Linked DNA regions of Homo sapiens. The protein of the gene in region 1 purifies or fractionates together with the protein of each later gene. This does not show direct contact. Each region holds a gene or a part of one and is shown on either strand. Other genes may lie near its edges.

The links. The genes of interacting proteins can lie anywhere in the genome.
Region 2: the proteins of FSTL4 (region 1) and KCMF1 purify together in Homo sapiens (affinity purification with mass spectrometry; 2 studies listed by BioGRID and IntAct, with this or other methods). This does not show direct contact.

Annotation. Positions count from the first base shown.
Region 1 is NC_000005.10:133,609,442-133,616,975, reverse strand, and holds the start of FSTL4 (follistatin-related protein 4 precursor), read left to right. Parts: upstream 1-4,434; 5' UTR 4,435-4,651; intron 4,652-7,534.
Region 2 is NC_000002.12:85,051,161-85,058,160, forward strand, and holds part of KCMF1 (E3 ubiquitin-protein ligase KCMF1), read left to right. Parts: intron 1-1,987; coding exon 1,988-2,249; 3' UTR 2,250-7,000. UniProt on the Homo sapiens protein: E3 ubiquitin-protein ligase which accepts ubiquitin from an E2 ubiquitin-conjugating enzyme and then transfers it to targeted substrates, promoting their degradation by the proteasome.

The DNA of each region.
Region 1 (7,534 bases):
GGGAACTGGCTCTAAGACTGTGGAGATGGCATGGAACAGTTAATAGGGCCACTCTTGCTAGGAAGCAAGACAAGTAAGTGTCCAAAGCCCTGGTCCAGGTTAGGGTCAAAGAGGTCAGAATGGCTGCTCAGATCTAGGGTGGCCTATCAACTAAGTCCAGTACCATCTTATACCCCTGAAGGTTGGATAGTTGTCTTCATAGCCCTTGAGGTGACCCATCATAATACTGCATATTCATTTGAAAGGAACGTTTATTTAGAAGAATGGAAGCTTCAGCCAGCCAGGTAGCTCATGCCTGTAATCCCAGCTCTTTGGGAGGCCGAGGTGGGGCAAATTACTTGAGCCCAGGAGTTCAAGACCAGCCTGGGCAACATAGGGAGACCCCGTCTCTACAAAAAGTACAAAAATTACCTGGGTATGGTAGTGCATGCCTGTAGTCCCAGCTATTGGGAGGCTAAGGTGGGAGGATCACCTGAGCCCAGGGAGGTTGAGGCTACAGTGAGCTGTGATCCCACCACTGGACTCCAGCCTGGGTGACAGAGTAAGACCCTGTCTCAAAAAGAAAAGAAGAGGAAAAGAAAGAATGGAAGCTCCCTAAGGTAGCAGTTCACCTTTAAAATTAGATAGATAGATAGATAGATAGATAGATAGATAGATAGATAGATTTAGATTTTCACATTATTTATGATTCTATACTGGTGAGTTGGAAAACAGGGTCATGATAAAAATTATGTTGTCCCTTTCAAAGAAAGGAAATTGGCCCCTCTTTTCACTCTCCTCTTAATATGTTCCCTCTTTCATCCCTTTTGCCTATACTCAGTAGGGTATGATAGTTTGTGGCTGTAGGCCTGGCCATCTCATCCCCAATTATCCCTTGTAAACAATACATTCTTAAGAGTAGCAGACTTCAGTTTCCTCCTGTTATCAGCACCTTTCTTGGTCCCCTTGTGCCATCAATCCAGCCCCTGTGAGTTTGCTGGGAATTTGCCTTGGTAACAATGCCATGGTGAGGGTTTTATGTTCATCTCCCTCCATTTTTACCATTCACAATTCCCTTTCCATCACTGCATCTTCTCATTTATCCCAACTTCTTCATTAAAATTCCTACTCTATACCACTTCTTCTTTGTCTCGAAAAATTTCCCCAATCACAGTTGTCCCTTGAATGAATACCTTATCTCCATGCTAGCTACTTTTCTCCCTGAAATAAAGTTAAAAACAATTATGTATGTGTAATCTTAAGTCTAGGATCTTGAACTTACTGCCTACATTCCCTTAATTTCTAGGTGATTAATGAATTATCATCTTAAAAATAAGCATTAATATTAGACTTAGAGGAAAACTTCAACATCATAGCTCTGTTTAGATCAGAATAACTGAACTTCTATAAATACAGGCAAAATAAAGGCATAGACCTTTAGAACTGAAAATGGCCTTAGACATGTCGTTTAGTATGACTGCCTCCCATGTACCCATTCCCAATTCCCACTTAAGAGAAAACAAGTTCTGGGAAAGGTGTGACTCTCCCAGGCTCACTGAGCCCTAGAGGCTGAGGCGGGAGAGAGACCCCATCCTTGTGCCTCCCATCCAGGGCTCTCCTAAGCACAGGGCTGGCTCTTCAGTAAACTGCATGGTTTGGTTTGAAGATTTACAAAAACATTTTTTGAACAGGCAGCAGAACGTTAAATTATGCAAGACAAGGAAGACTCTTTCCTGCCTTTTCCCACCTTCTCACATGACTTCCCAGTCTGGCTTCTAATGGGTATTTCTAGGCACTGTTTGACCAGCCTAGTGGGGACTCCCAAGGGTAAGCTGACCCACAGTTAGTGATGCAGATACTTTTGGTTGGATCTGGAGAAAGTGCCTTGCTTCCTCCTGATTCCCATGGCTATGTGTCATCTCTGAGTATCCTGATATGCAGGTGTAATCTGAAATGTCCTAAGAGACACACATCATTTGGCAGTAGTTTTTCATTATATTGTTGTGTTTTTGGTAAGGATTAGAAATAGAAAAAAGATTTTAAACCAGCAACGTAAAAAAATATTTGGGTTGCTTAAACTTTTTGATCTTGTAAAAGTATATTAATAATGTTTTTATGTGTGTCTCTGGCTGAACCACTCACCAAAAACAGAGTGGGGCTGGGGGGCAGTAACTGGAATTTATGTTTCCTTTTAGCTCCCCTATTCCAAGCTTATTGAATTACATGAAGTTCAAAACTTAACCATTATTTCCCCTAAGAATCCTAGTTGGCTATTGAGAATCAGTATGCTTGCAAGTTCTGAAACAGGGTTTCAGGCAAATTTTGAAATTCTCAGTGTGAAATCTAGCCTATTTTCCAATTTGGGGTGTACTATTAAACAAAAAATTACACTGAGAGGTAAAAGCACAGAGCAATTCAAAGAGGTGTCAAGGTTACTGGCATCTGATGCTGCTTCCCTGGAGCCTTGTTTTATTTTGTCATTCACACTTCACCTTTCTCATTCCGAGGTGACTTTTAATTTCACTCTTATTTTATGCACAGTAGTTAAACAGCTCACTTCAGATGTTAGCATTCTCTCTAAGGAATATTCCATACATCTGGTTTGCAGCAACTACCTTCTTCTCCTTCTTTGGGAAGCGTGTAGAAGTTCAGTGCCTGTTCACTGCATTAAACAGAGCTATTTCTGATCTTGGTCAACCTATAGACCCTGATTTACATATGACCTTGAGTTACTAAAAAACAAAAAATACACAAAGTCCTGCTTTGATTATGTAATAAGGCCACTAGGTTGACTCAGGGACTTTGTGATCAGAGCTGAGAATAGAAATCTGCTTTTCCAAATACCTCATGTCTTAGAGGAGAGCCGAATCCAGCCTCTAAGCCATGGTGTACGTTCCTGACCACAGACTTAGAATTACATTTCAGAGGGAGGCACAGCACATTTCCAAACTTCCCTGCTTCCTTTTATACTCATTTTCTCTTTTCTGTTTCCCAAGATGAAAAGTGCCATCCCTTCCCCAGTCCTGCCATGGAGAATCTGGCCCCTAGCCAGCCCCAGAAGTTCAGTCATGGTGGCCTTGGCAAAGATTCATAGTCAAATCTGAGAGAGGATCACACTGGCTAGGGCCCAGGGTCACTGAGGATGTAGTAGCCTTTATCCTTCTGAGTAAAAATCATGGTATCCACATGGGAAGTCAACCAGGTTTTGTCCAACCCCTCATTTTACAAGTGGGGAAACTGATACCTACAGTAGAGATACGATTGGCTCTGCATTACATAGCTTGGCAGTGATAGAGGGAGAGCTGGACCCCAGACCAAAACTGTGTGATGCCAAGACCGCGCTGGCCCATTCACTGCTGTATCTCTAGCAACTATTAATAGCACAGTGCCTGCTGCATTGGAGGGGTTCAGCGGCAGGAAAATCTGTGGAAGGAAAAAACAAACGTAATATCTCTTTCTTCAGGTCAGCCTTCCATTATTCTTCCCCTTTTCCTTATATTTAACTAACTTCATCCTCAGAAAAATCCCCTCTGTCACCTCCCCCCGGCCAGGAGAGATTACAGAGGCATGGACAGAACACTGTTCACCTAAGCCAGGAAGGCCCCTGGTGCCCACGCAGCCAGAGCAGGAGGCAGGCCCTCAGAAAGTCTCCTGGCCATCAGCCTGGCCTGGGTAGGGGCTCCCTCCTAAGTTTCCTGCCAGACTGAGGCTACGTATGACCATTTATGGGCCCCTAGTTGTTACAAAGGTGTTTCCAGTTCATTCGGGAAGGAAGACTGATCTCAAAAGCTGCTGATGTTAAAGAGGGATTCAGAAAAGTTTGGGAGCCCCAGGCTTGGGGATGGGATCAGGATGGGGAAATATCCTGTTCTAAGGGAGAAGGGACCCTCTGGGCCCAGCTAGGTCAGGTAGGCAAATGTCACTTGGGATTGCCCCTGTATGCCCTGAATGTCTTAAGATTCTGTAGTTGGAAGAGGGAAGATTCAGAAAAGAGAAAACCTTTGCTGTTTCCCAGGTTGTTGGGTCTCAACGGCGGGGGATTTCACCCACTTTGTCCCCAGGGACAGCTCTCCTGCTGTGGTGTACCGGCCCGCCTGGACTCCACGAGCAATGGCCGCGGATTCAGAGACCCCCTGTGCGCCTGGAGAGCACAGCTTTGGGGAACCTGGCCCGGAAAGGAGCCTGGAGGAGAGCAGAGGTGAAGAGGGGCTGTCACTTGCCGAGCTCCACGCTAGCCAGAGGCAGGAGCGCTACGCTGGCCCTCCTCCCTCCGGGCCCTAGATGGCCCCAGCGCTCCGGAGTCATCGCGCCCCGCGTGCGCGCCCGCCTGCTCCGCGCACCTGCCGTGGCCGCCGCGCGGGTCTGACCGGCTGGCGGGCGGGCGGCGCGCACAGGTGGCGGCGATTGGGCAGGCGGGGCCCAGAGGGTGACGTCACGGGCTCCGGTCCCGGCGGCAGAAATAGGGCAGCCGCGGCGGCGGTGGCACAGCAGCGGGCAGCGGCGGCTCAGGGAGCTGGAGCCTCAACAGCCTCCAGCGAGCCCGGGACCCGCCGACAGCCCGAGAAACCAGCCGAAGGACGCGGGGCGGGGTCGCCGCCGCCGCCACGGGGTGCTCCCTCCCTCCCGCCCAAGTCCGGCCACCTGGTCTTCCCCTCGGCCCCGGCCGTCTCAGGTACGCGGGCGCAGCTCCCAGCGGGCGCGGGGAGGGTGCCATGTCGCTGGCGCCGCCACCAGCCGGTCCCGCTGCACCCCACTGGGGTCCTGGCGCCCGCGGCCCCGCATCTTGCTGCAGGGCCCGGCGCGGGCGCTTGCTTGTCCTTACTGCCCGCGCCGGGAAAGCCAAGTTTGCCCGCGGGGAAGGGACCGCTGGGCCAGGGCTCGGCAGGGCTACCCCGGCCAAGGCCAGGACTCGAGGAGAGGCTGGGACGCCGAGGCTCGTGGCCGGGGTCTACGGTGGGGACCGGAGTGACCCGGTTGGCACGCGGGGCGCCACGCAGAAGCGCTCGGGCCGAGCCCGCAGCTCGCGCCCGGCTCCGAAATCCTGCAGGCGCCGTTCTTGGGTTCAGGACCCCGAGCGGCCCCGGCGGAGCCAGGCGAGCGCGGCCCCTCGGCCCGGGCCCGGTGCCCTTGGCTCCGGGTTGGGGCGCCGGGCAGGCATTCTCAGCACCTCCTCCCCGCGGCTTTGCGGGGAAACTTGCGTCTCCTCGCTGCAGCCCAAAGGGCCCGCTGCGCTTCGCCTGGCCCTGGCTTCCCCGGGGTCCGCCGCATGTGAGGCTGGGGAGGAAGGAATCAGGGCACGACCCGACTCCAGGCAGCCTGCGGCGCTGCTTGTGCGTAGCCGGCCGCGGTCCAGAGTGAGCGGCCCGGGGTACCCGCTTGAACGTGTCTAGGGAGCAGTGTGTTGGGGGCGTTCAGCGTTCGGGCTGGGGGCTTGGTCCTAAGAGAGCTTGCACTGTGGATGATCTCCGCCCTCTTTGCGCCCGCAAAACAAAGACGAGTTCTGAGTTTCAGGAGGGACCTGGACGAGGCAGGCACAGCACTCTGCTTTCGGCGCCTGTCGCCTCGAGTTTGGGGACGAGCTGACGCTAGTCTTTGGGGCTCCCTGCAGCCGACAAAGCGGCGCCAACCCCAGGCCTGCCACCTGAGGACTTTGTGCCCGCAACTCTTGCGGGAGCGGAAAGCCGCCGAGGCAGTGGGGTTTCTTGTTTTCCAGAGCGCGGCGAGCCTCCGCGCGGCGCGGCAAGTGCACTAGGAGTGCGCGGGTCAGCGGGGCGGGCCCGGCGAGGTCGGTGTCGCGGCTCGAGAGCGGGTGCCGGGGCGCTGTCCAGCAGCCCTCGCTCGCGGCCGCGGGCCGCCGACACTGATGAATGGCGCGGCCACAGCCCGCCGCTCCCCTCTAGGTGTCGCTTCCGCCGAGCTTTCCTCCAGTGAAAAACAGCGCCGGCAGCTTGGTCTGTTACCTTCGTAAATTTGTTGCAAGCCTGTGCACCAGGAATTGTACTAGATGGGGCCCCCGAGATACAAACATCCGTCCAGGTTCTCTGGGCCAAACGTAAACAGAATTTCAATAGGTGGTGAAGTAACTGCCAGCCAAAATGTTCACCGGGAATGGGCCTGTGTCACAATCTGTGAGGGGAAAAGACGGATCAGTGAGCGACTAGGACTCTTCTTGAAAGTCCTAAGTTATTTTCCTACTGCCAAATTTAGGGGAAACCAGCGATGCTTTTTAATAGTGTCTTCTTAATCCTGGGAGCCAGGCGCCAGTTTCTGTGCCTGCCCCTCTGGCCCCCAGGACAGACTCTGGGTCTGGTTGGCGGGGGGTCCACCTGGGAAGGGAATGGTCGGAGGTGTGAGTGATGCAGCTTCTGAGACTCCAGAGCCACAGCAACTCTCAGGCAGGAGCTCAAGCCGGACATACGAGCAGATGCCCTACAGGGCACGTGTCTGCTTCCCATCTTAGCGTTGTGAGAAGGAGGCACTGCAGCATCACTAGACCATTTCTGCCATACTCTGCTAAATGTTCGCTTTTTCCCTCCCATCCTAGGAAAAAAAGGCACCACCCTCTCCAAAGACTTCAGACTGAGCCAAAGTTCACATAAGAAAATAGTCCACTTTGATGTAATGTATTTAAATTGCTCGTTAGAGTTGTCCTAGTGCTTTTTTCTCTCTTAGACTTTTATGATCATCCTCAATTTTTGTTGATTCTAGGAAAGCTCTTTTTCTTCTGGAAAAGGCCAGCTTGTTTTTCTGGGTATTAGGAGAACTTTTATCCTTTCGGCTGTGCCCTGGAGGTGGGTGAGGGAAGAGGAGGTTGGATTTTTCCACCATGACCAGTCAGTCACTGAGGACTTTTTTTCCTTTTACTAAGGGCCGTAGGACTTTTTAAATGTGACCTTCACGTTATGATCTTTTGTTTGACTTAACACTATATTCAGAGACTAGCATTGAATAGTCATTGTTTCATAAAACTACCTTAACTCCTACCTTGCCTTGTTTGAGTGTTTCTCTGCAAACTCAACCTTCTTGAGTTGCTTATGTGCGGTTAGTTGTGTGCTTCCTAGCTTAATGCAATTAGATATTTCAAGAGCACATCTTTCTTTACATTTTCTGTCTCAATGCATAACATAAGGCATGGAATTTCCAATAAAATAGAACTGCAATCAAGAGCATGTGGTTCTTAAGAGGTATGAGCTGAAGGTTGTAAGGATAAAGGTTATTGGAAGTCACATGTGTGTCTGTGTTAAACGTCAGAGTAAATAGGAATAGAGATTTATACATGGCACATAGAATAATGTAGCCATCTAATTTATCAAGTGTTGGGGAAGAATTAACTAATGATATAGAGTAGATAATTAATAGGAAATGCAATTTAACTTCATTAGGGCTTGCTGCAACGTTAGCTTGCTATATCTCCATGCCTAATTTCCCTGGGTTGGTGTTTTAGGGACTGTCTTAGGAAATCTGTACCACTTTCTTTTTTTCTAAAACACTCACATATCAAAACTAGGGTCGTAAGCCTTTGAGAGGTTCCCGTACAGCCTCCTGGTTTCACGCT
Region 2 (7,000 bases), on another chromosome or scaffold:
GCAAGGTCAGTAACTGTGCCTGGTTATTACCAGATAATGCTGCTTTAATGTAAGAAAACCACAGAGCCACAGATGGAGCTACCTGCTGCCATGTAGCCTTCCCCATAGGGACTGACCAGCAGCAGGTCTATAACATACCAGATCTAAGTCCCTACCTCAAAAAGGAGATCTACTAGCGTGCATTTCTACTGAGAGTTCACAGAACTGTGGGTGGAATGTCTTGCCAGTGCCCTTTGGAAAAGACATCTTCCTACCCACCCTTGCCCTATCCTTTTTTTTTTTAAGACCCAAACTACTCAGCTTGATCTGTAATTTTTTTCTGTGCATTTATTCCACACCCAACTCTCAGAGCATGGTATGAGTGACCTCTGAGTGCTGTCTGTGGATTCTGGTTGTAGCTTCTTGAAATCCCCCTTCTATCATCTGATACTGTACATTCTATGGTACCATGCAGTTTGCAAACCACTTTCCACATCTTTTATTGTATTATATTCATATGATTTATTTAAGGCAATATTTCCCCAGAAATACTCTCTTAACTTCATATATTCAAAGGAATATATGTAATTACTTATGTTCTTCCACCCCCAATTAATAAGGTTGCAGAAAGCAAAGTAAGGAAAATTAAGAGATTATTTACTGTTGGGCTTCTTAGAACTTCAAATATATTAACATGCATTGTGAATTTTCAAGGCAAGGAGAACGGCTGCAGTGTATGCAGGGGAGATCCTGCTCTCTGGTCACACAGCTCTTATGTGATATATATAGGGCCCAAGCCTTATTTTTGGTCTTTTCTTTGACCAGGGGCAGTTCCTATTCATGTTGCCCTGCAACTGATGGTAAGGTCACAGTTTCTTTGAAGTCCAAGATAGTTGACCTTTTAGAAAGTGATTATTGGAGTGTGTAAGTCAGATCGGTCTTTTTTTGAGATAGAATTTCGCTCTTGTTGCCCAAGCTGGAGTGCAATGGCACGATCTCGGCTCACTGCAACCACCGCCTCCCAGGTTTAAGCGATTCTCCTACTTCAGCCTCCCGAGTAGCTGGGATTATAGGCACGCACCCCCACACCTGGCTAATTTTTTGTATTTTTAGTAGAAATGGGGTTTCACCACATTAGCCAGGCTGGTCTCAAACTCCTGACCTCAGGTGATCCGCCCGCCTTGGCCTCCCAAAGTGCTGGGATTACAGTCATGAGCCACCGTGCCTGGCCAGATCTAATCTTTTGACAGTGGGACCAGTTCATTTTGCTAACCCCAACTTGAAGATCCTCACAAGCCTTGCAGTTTCATTTATATCCTAAATGTTATATTTCATCAAGAAATTTGTCTAGTCTCTGTGCAGATGAGCCAGGTTTCCCAGCATAGCCCAGATCTCATAAGTACATGCATCAGGGGAGCAAGTCAGGCAGGTAGACCTTGTGTCTGCCCTGCTACACTGTAGGTCCTTGGTAGAAGAAATGTAGGAGTTTGTATGTATGTGTTTTCTTGCCCTTTCTAGCTTCTGCATATACCAAGAAGAATTAAATAGAGTAATAGAGAAAAGTCAGAGGAAATCTTAGGATATTTTTCAGTTGAATATTCTGTTCACTGCAGATTTTGTTTTTGTGTTTTATTTTCCTCTTTTTATTTACCCCCAGATGAAATTCTGGTTAGATACTTTCCCAAGCATCTAATCTGTAAGAAATCCTGTTTTCCTTAGAAAATTTTCACCTAGCTTTCTCTGGAGTGGAAAAAGTCTAAATGTCTTTTTTTTTCTCATTGAGTCTAATTAAAGCATAGATTTGCACCTCCAGGTAACAGTATTGCAACAAGTGTGGGGAATTCGTCTCAACACAATTAAGGATAAATTACAGCCAAGTATTCCAGCAATGTCTCATTCTGAATTTTGCCACCTGTAAAACTTCACAGTGGAGAGCACTGTAGAAATTGGCCATGCCATTGTTCATTGACTTTTTAACAATAAGGTCTTTTCTTTTTAACTTACACAGGTTGAATGATCCTAAAATGTCTGAAACGGAGCGCCAGTCCATGGAAAGCGAGCGTGCAGACCGCAGCCTGTTTGTCCAAGAGCTCCTTCTGTCCACTTTAGTGCGTGAAGAGAGCTCATCCTCAGATGAGGATGATCGGGGGGAGATGGCAGATTTTGGTGCTATGGGCTGTGTAGATATTATGCCTTTAGATGTTGCTTTAGAAAACCTAAATTTAAAAGAGAGTAATAAAGGAAATGAGCCTCCACCACCTCCTCTTTGATGACATCCCAATTCGCAGACAATGTCCTCTGTGCTGTATTTGCCAATGAAAGTGGACAACAACTATCTTGGGTTTGTTTGGTGATTGTAATTTCAGGTCTGTCACTCTTGTTACATTGTGTACATTCAAAAGGAAGAGAGAAAATATATATGATAATCATTTCCACTTAACTAATTTTTACTTCTAGCAGGTAAATGTAGGTAGCAGTGCAGGGGTGATCTCTGCTTCCTGTACCTTGACATGCAAAAGGCTCTCCTAATACTCCACATTCAAACTGAAGAGGAAAATTGAAATCTCTAATGAAGCTGCTGTGTGTATTTATGAATATTAATGAATAAAAACTGCTTGGATGGTTTACCTTAACTACTGCATGAGGTTTTTTGCAGCGTGCATGAGTTTTAGTGACCTTGTTATTTAAGAAGTTAAATACAAGGAGTAAAACTTAAAAAAAAAATACAAAGCCCAAAGCTTTCCCAAACATTATTCAATGGTTACACGACGAAGTAGCTTTTGAATAATGTCTGCCTGAATCACCTTTCTTTGTGTGCCTCCTACGCACAAAGCCAGCTCTGCAGTGGAATCTGGGGATTATAGCCGGGTGTGGCACTCCGCCCTGTGTGACTGTCCTGTCGCCCTGTTAGTCATCTTGCCTGTGTGGAGCTCAGCCTGTCTCTTTAACTCATCTGTAGAAGACACACCAGTAAAGCTACTGTTGGAATCTGCTGCAGGGGCCTTTGTGTGCCCTAAAAACAAATCCTGTTCATGTTTGTTTAAAGTTTTTACTTTTTGTGGTTGTTTAAAATTTTTTCAATTGTTAAATATGTTTTATTCAGGTGTAGATGAATTTCATTTATTGACTGTTCAACAGAGTTAACCTGAATTATGTTGTCTTTGTTTTTAAAAATCTCACATTCTCAATCATATTTTGCATTATTTATGTATTTGCTTTGTAGTTTGCTGAGACAGATCAGTATCAGGGGAGCTTTGAGGATTTGCCTTCCCAGATTTGTCAGTATATTACAACCAAATTCTTAATGCTAATTTTAGCACCTTTTATTTATTGGGTTTTTTCTGGCATAAAAAGTAAAGCCTTTTAATTGAATCATGCCACCTATATGCCTATATTATTAATCCTATGTGTAAAAAAAATGTACAGCTTTTTTTGGGTTTGTTTTGGGGTTTGGAAGGGCCGGGTTATTTTTTATTTCCTGTTTCAGTTTTTGTGCATAGACTTTCACAATAGCTCCAAGGCAGGGACAGCGGGTTTGGGGGTTGGGAGGGCAGTTTTTGGAATGTAAATTTAGGACTTTTAAAAAGGTGCGCACAGCTTCTGATAAATTTATAACTAGACTTAACCTAATCATGTCTCGTTCCAGTTCTCTTTTCTCTGAGCCCTTTTCAAAGTCTCCTCTCTTTCTCCTGTCATCCTTTTCCTTTCCTGTCCGTGTATCTCCGTTTCTTCAACATGACAAGCATACAGACTTGAACACCCCTCCGGTGTTCTTCCGAGAACTGTGAAGTCCATGTTCATCCAAATGTAACCAAAAAAGAAGTCACCCTACATGTCTGAAAAACTGTTGCTTCTCCTCTGAAACTTCAAACTCCAACGATTTCCAAATACAATAGCTTTGTTTTCTTTAGTTCTGTAATGGATAATGTTTAAAGGAAAACTTTACACCAGGCTTCTGGTTACACTAGAAGTCAAGCCCATTAGGGATTTTCATTTTTTTTCATTTGGTTGTTGAGAAGTTTCAAAAATCAGTTTTCAAGCTGTGGTCTTTCAAACACATCTGCACATAAGTCACACATTTCAATAAAGCATTTTCAAGACTGTTGACCACTTGAATTTCTTTGGTGTTAGTGGATTAACCTAACCATTACTCTGAGATTTTATATCTCTAATCCAGTATTTTTTTTCTTTTTATGCTAAACATGGGAGATCCTGGTTTTGTGTGAATGCATTATTTTGGATGTGAGAAATAAATGCCAATTATATGTACTTTCCCTTTTCTGCACAAATTCTGGGAAAATGTAAAAGCCTTCATTTTTTAACATGGTTTTAGGGAACAACTGTAAGTCCATTCAGAGCAGTTTAATTTAGATGATCACTTTTAACACTGCAGAAGACCTAAGGAGTCATAAGATTCCATCTCATGTAGAATACTGTATATTAATTATTTTTTACCAGATATTTTACAAATACCTCACCTCATCCTGTATGTAATCAATAATGTATTATTTTAGGGTAGAACGACACAGAATATCAATATAAAAATATATTCAAGCCCTTGAAATTCTTGTGTCCTTTTTCTTTAGTTTCTGAATGAAAATCTTATTACTGGATGTACTATTGAATAAAAATTAATTGCAAAGACTTTGATGGAGACAAAATCAAAATATACCACTGTTTATTTTGGCAGCACCTTCAAATTTCTAAGGACCAGATCCTGAATTTTGAGAATTTTTTGTTTCGTTGAGTTTTGAGTGTCTAGGATATAAGTTTATAAATGTTCTACAGTGCTTGTCTTTACTTCCTGTTTAGAAATCATTTAAATCTTTCCCCTCGAGGTGCTCTGGAAGAAGTTTAATTTCAGCTCTGAACAAGTAGAAATAACTGTGCTTCCTTGTATGGCTGCAATCATAAGACAGAATTTCTGTGGTTGGCTACCGTGAAATCTTTGTATTTATATTGCATTGTTTTGTTAAAAAAAAAAAAATCCACAGAAGTAGAACCTAGGTTTGCTACTAACAAAGTAGTGGATTCTTATAATTAGGCTCAGGTAAAGTAAGAGAAAACTTCTCTCCCTGTGGCCCCCAGAGAAATGAAGTAGGATAGCAGATTACACTATTAGAAATAATAGACGTAACAAAAAAAATCCAGCCCATTATCCCCACCCCCCATTTTCCCTCTCAATATTAGAAATTTCAATAATATGCTGACAGATTTTCAAAGGTCACCAAGGCTTTTGTGTTTTTTTCCGGTCTGTGGGCCACAGTTAAAAGAACGGGTAACAGGTTCAGAGTTCTCTTGATACGTCCAAGCCTTAGTTTCCAGGAAAAAAGCTAGGCTCCTCACTGCAAATATTAACGCTTTATATATTTACTCCATGGATGTTGGGGTAAGCACATATATCAATAGTTCATAGCTCTAGTTAAGGACAAAGTGGGTTGGGGGGTAGAAGGAGAATACTAGAGAGGTTACGGTAGCAGGTGGCTGCAGAAAAGAATCTTTTGAATGGGATTCCTGTAACAGTGTTCAGTACCAATATTAAGTCTACTGTAAGTGGGGTCTGATATGGCTTACTGATACAGGCATGTGTAAAAAACTAAGTGTGATGGAGGAATGGGTGCTAAAAGCTCTTAACAGTTTTGTAGAGAAGCCCTGCAGCCGTGTTTACTATATATGACATGCCTGTTTCTTAGTTTGCATGCACAGTTTAAGGGGCACATGCAATATTGGTTTCATGTGCAGTAAAAATTAAAACACGGCTGAGCGTGGTGGCTCACGCCTGTAATCCCAGCACTTTGCGAGGCCGAGGCGGGTGGATCACGAGGTCGAGTTTGAGACCATTTTGGCCAGCATAGTGAAACCCCATCTCTACTAAAAAATACAAAAAGTTAGCTGGGCATGGTGGCAGGCACCTGTAATCCCAGCTACTCGGGAGGCTGAGGCAGGAGAATCGCTTGAACCTGGGAGGCAGAGGTTGCAGTGAGCTGAGATCACGCCGCCATTGCACTCCAGCCCGGGCGACGGTGCAAGACTCTGTCTCAAAAAAAAAAAAAATTAAAACACTAGGTACGAAATTATCCCAGAATTATACGCGAAAGTTGGTGTTCATGCTGGAAAACAGTTACGGTTATCTGTGCTCTTTCTAAAGCTCAACTAGACACTAAAACAGTTCTCTCCTTGAGACCGGAAGTGGGATGGGGGTGGGCAGGTGGAAGGGAAGAGGCTGGGGAGGAGCCTCTCATCTCATCTCATTTCAGCCTCAACAGTAATTGAAACCCTATGCCTGGCCTGGAGTGGGTAGAGGTTAGGGTTAGAGTGCAGGATGGAGCAGCAGTCTGCAGACTTTCAGGTTGTGACGATGTCATGAAATTCTGTGCTATTAAACATGGCTATGTCTGAGTCAGTCATTACGGTATTCCAAAGCCAAATTCAAGTGACTGTTTTTCTGAATAGTATAAAAATCTAATTCCCTGTGCTTATCGGCTTCAACTGTGCTTACACAACGTTTGTTTCTAATTCGTACTCTTGCCTCTTGGTTTCTGTAGTTTTTCAACCCATTTCTGTCAGTGTTCTATAAATGCATACATTCGTTATTTAAGGAACCCTGCAGCAGACCTCGAATAAAATGTGACTTGATGTTTGTTGCCACTTCCTCAACTTGGTTAGCAAATTCAAGTTTTGAAAGACGATTCGTCTCAGAGAAGTTGATCCTGAACCTCCACGTCACATTTTAGTCGGTTGCTATTAGGTGGGTAATGCCTAATAACATGGGTTCCTCAAATCACAAAGGAGAATGCTCTCAAGTCCTCATGTTAACTTTAGTAAGTCAGTTAACTTTACAGCAACTAAAGAGATCAATTAAAAAGAACCCTTAAGTCTGACTGTCCCAGGTAACTTTACTTGCTGTACAGATAGTGCACAGATATGGATGAGGGCTGCACATGGCTGATTTGAAAACCCATGTGGGGCCGGGTGTGGTGGCTCACGCCTGTAATCCCAGCACTTTGGGAGGCCAAGGCGG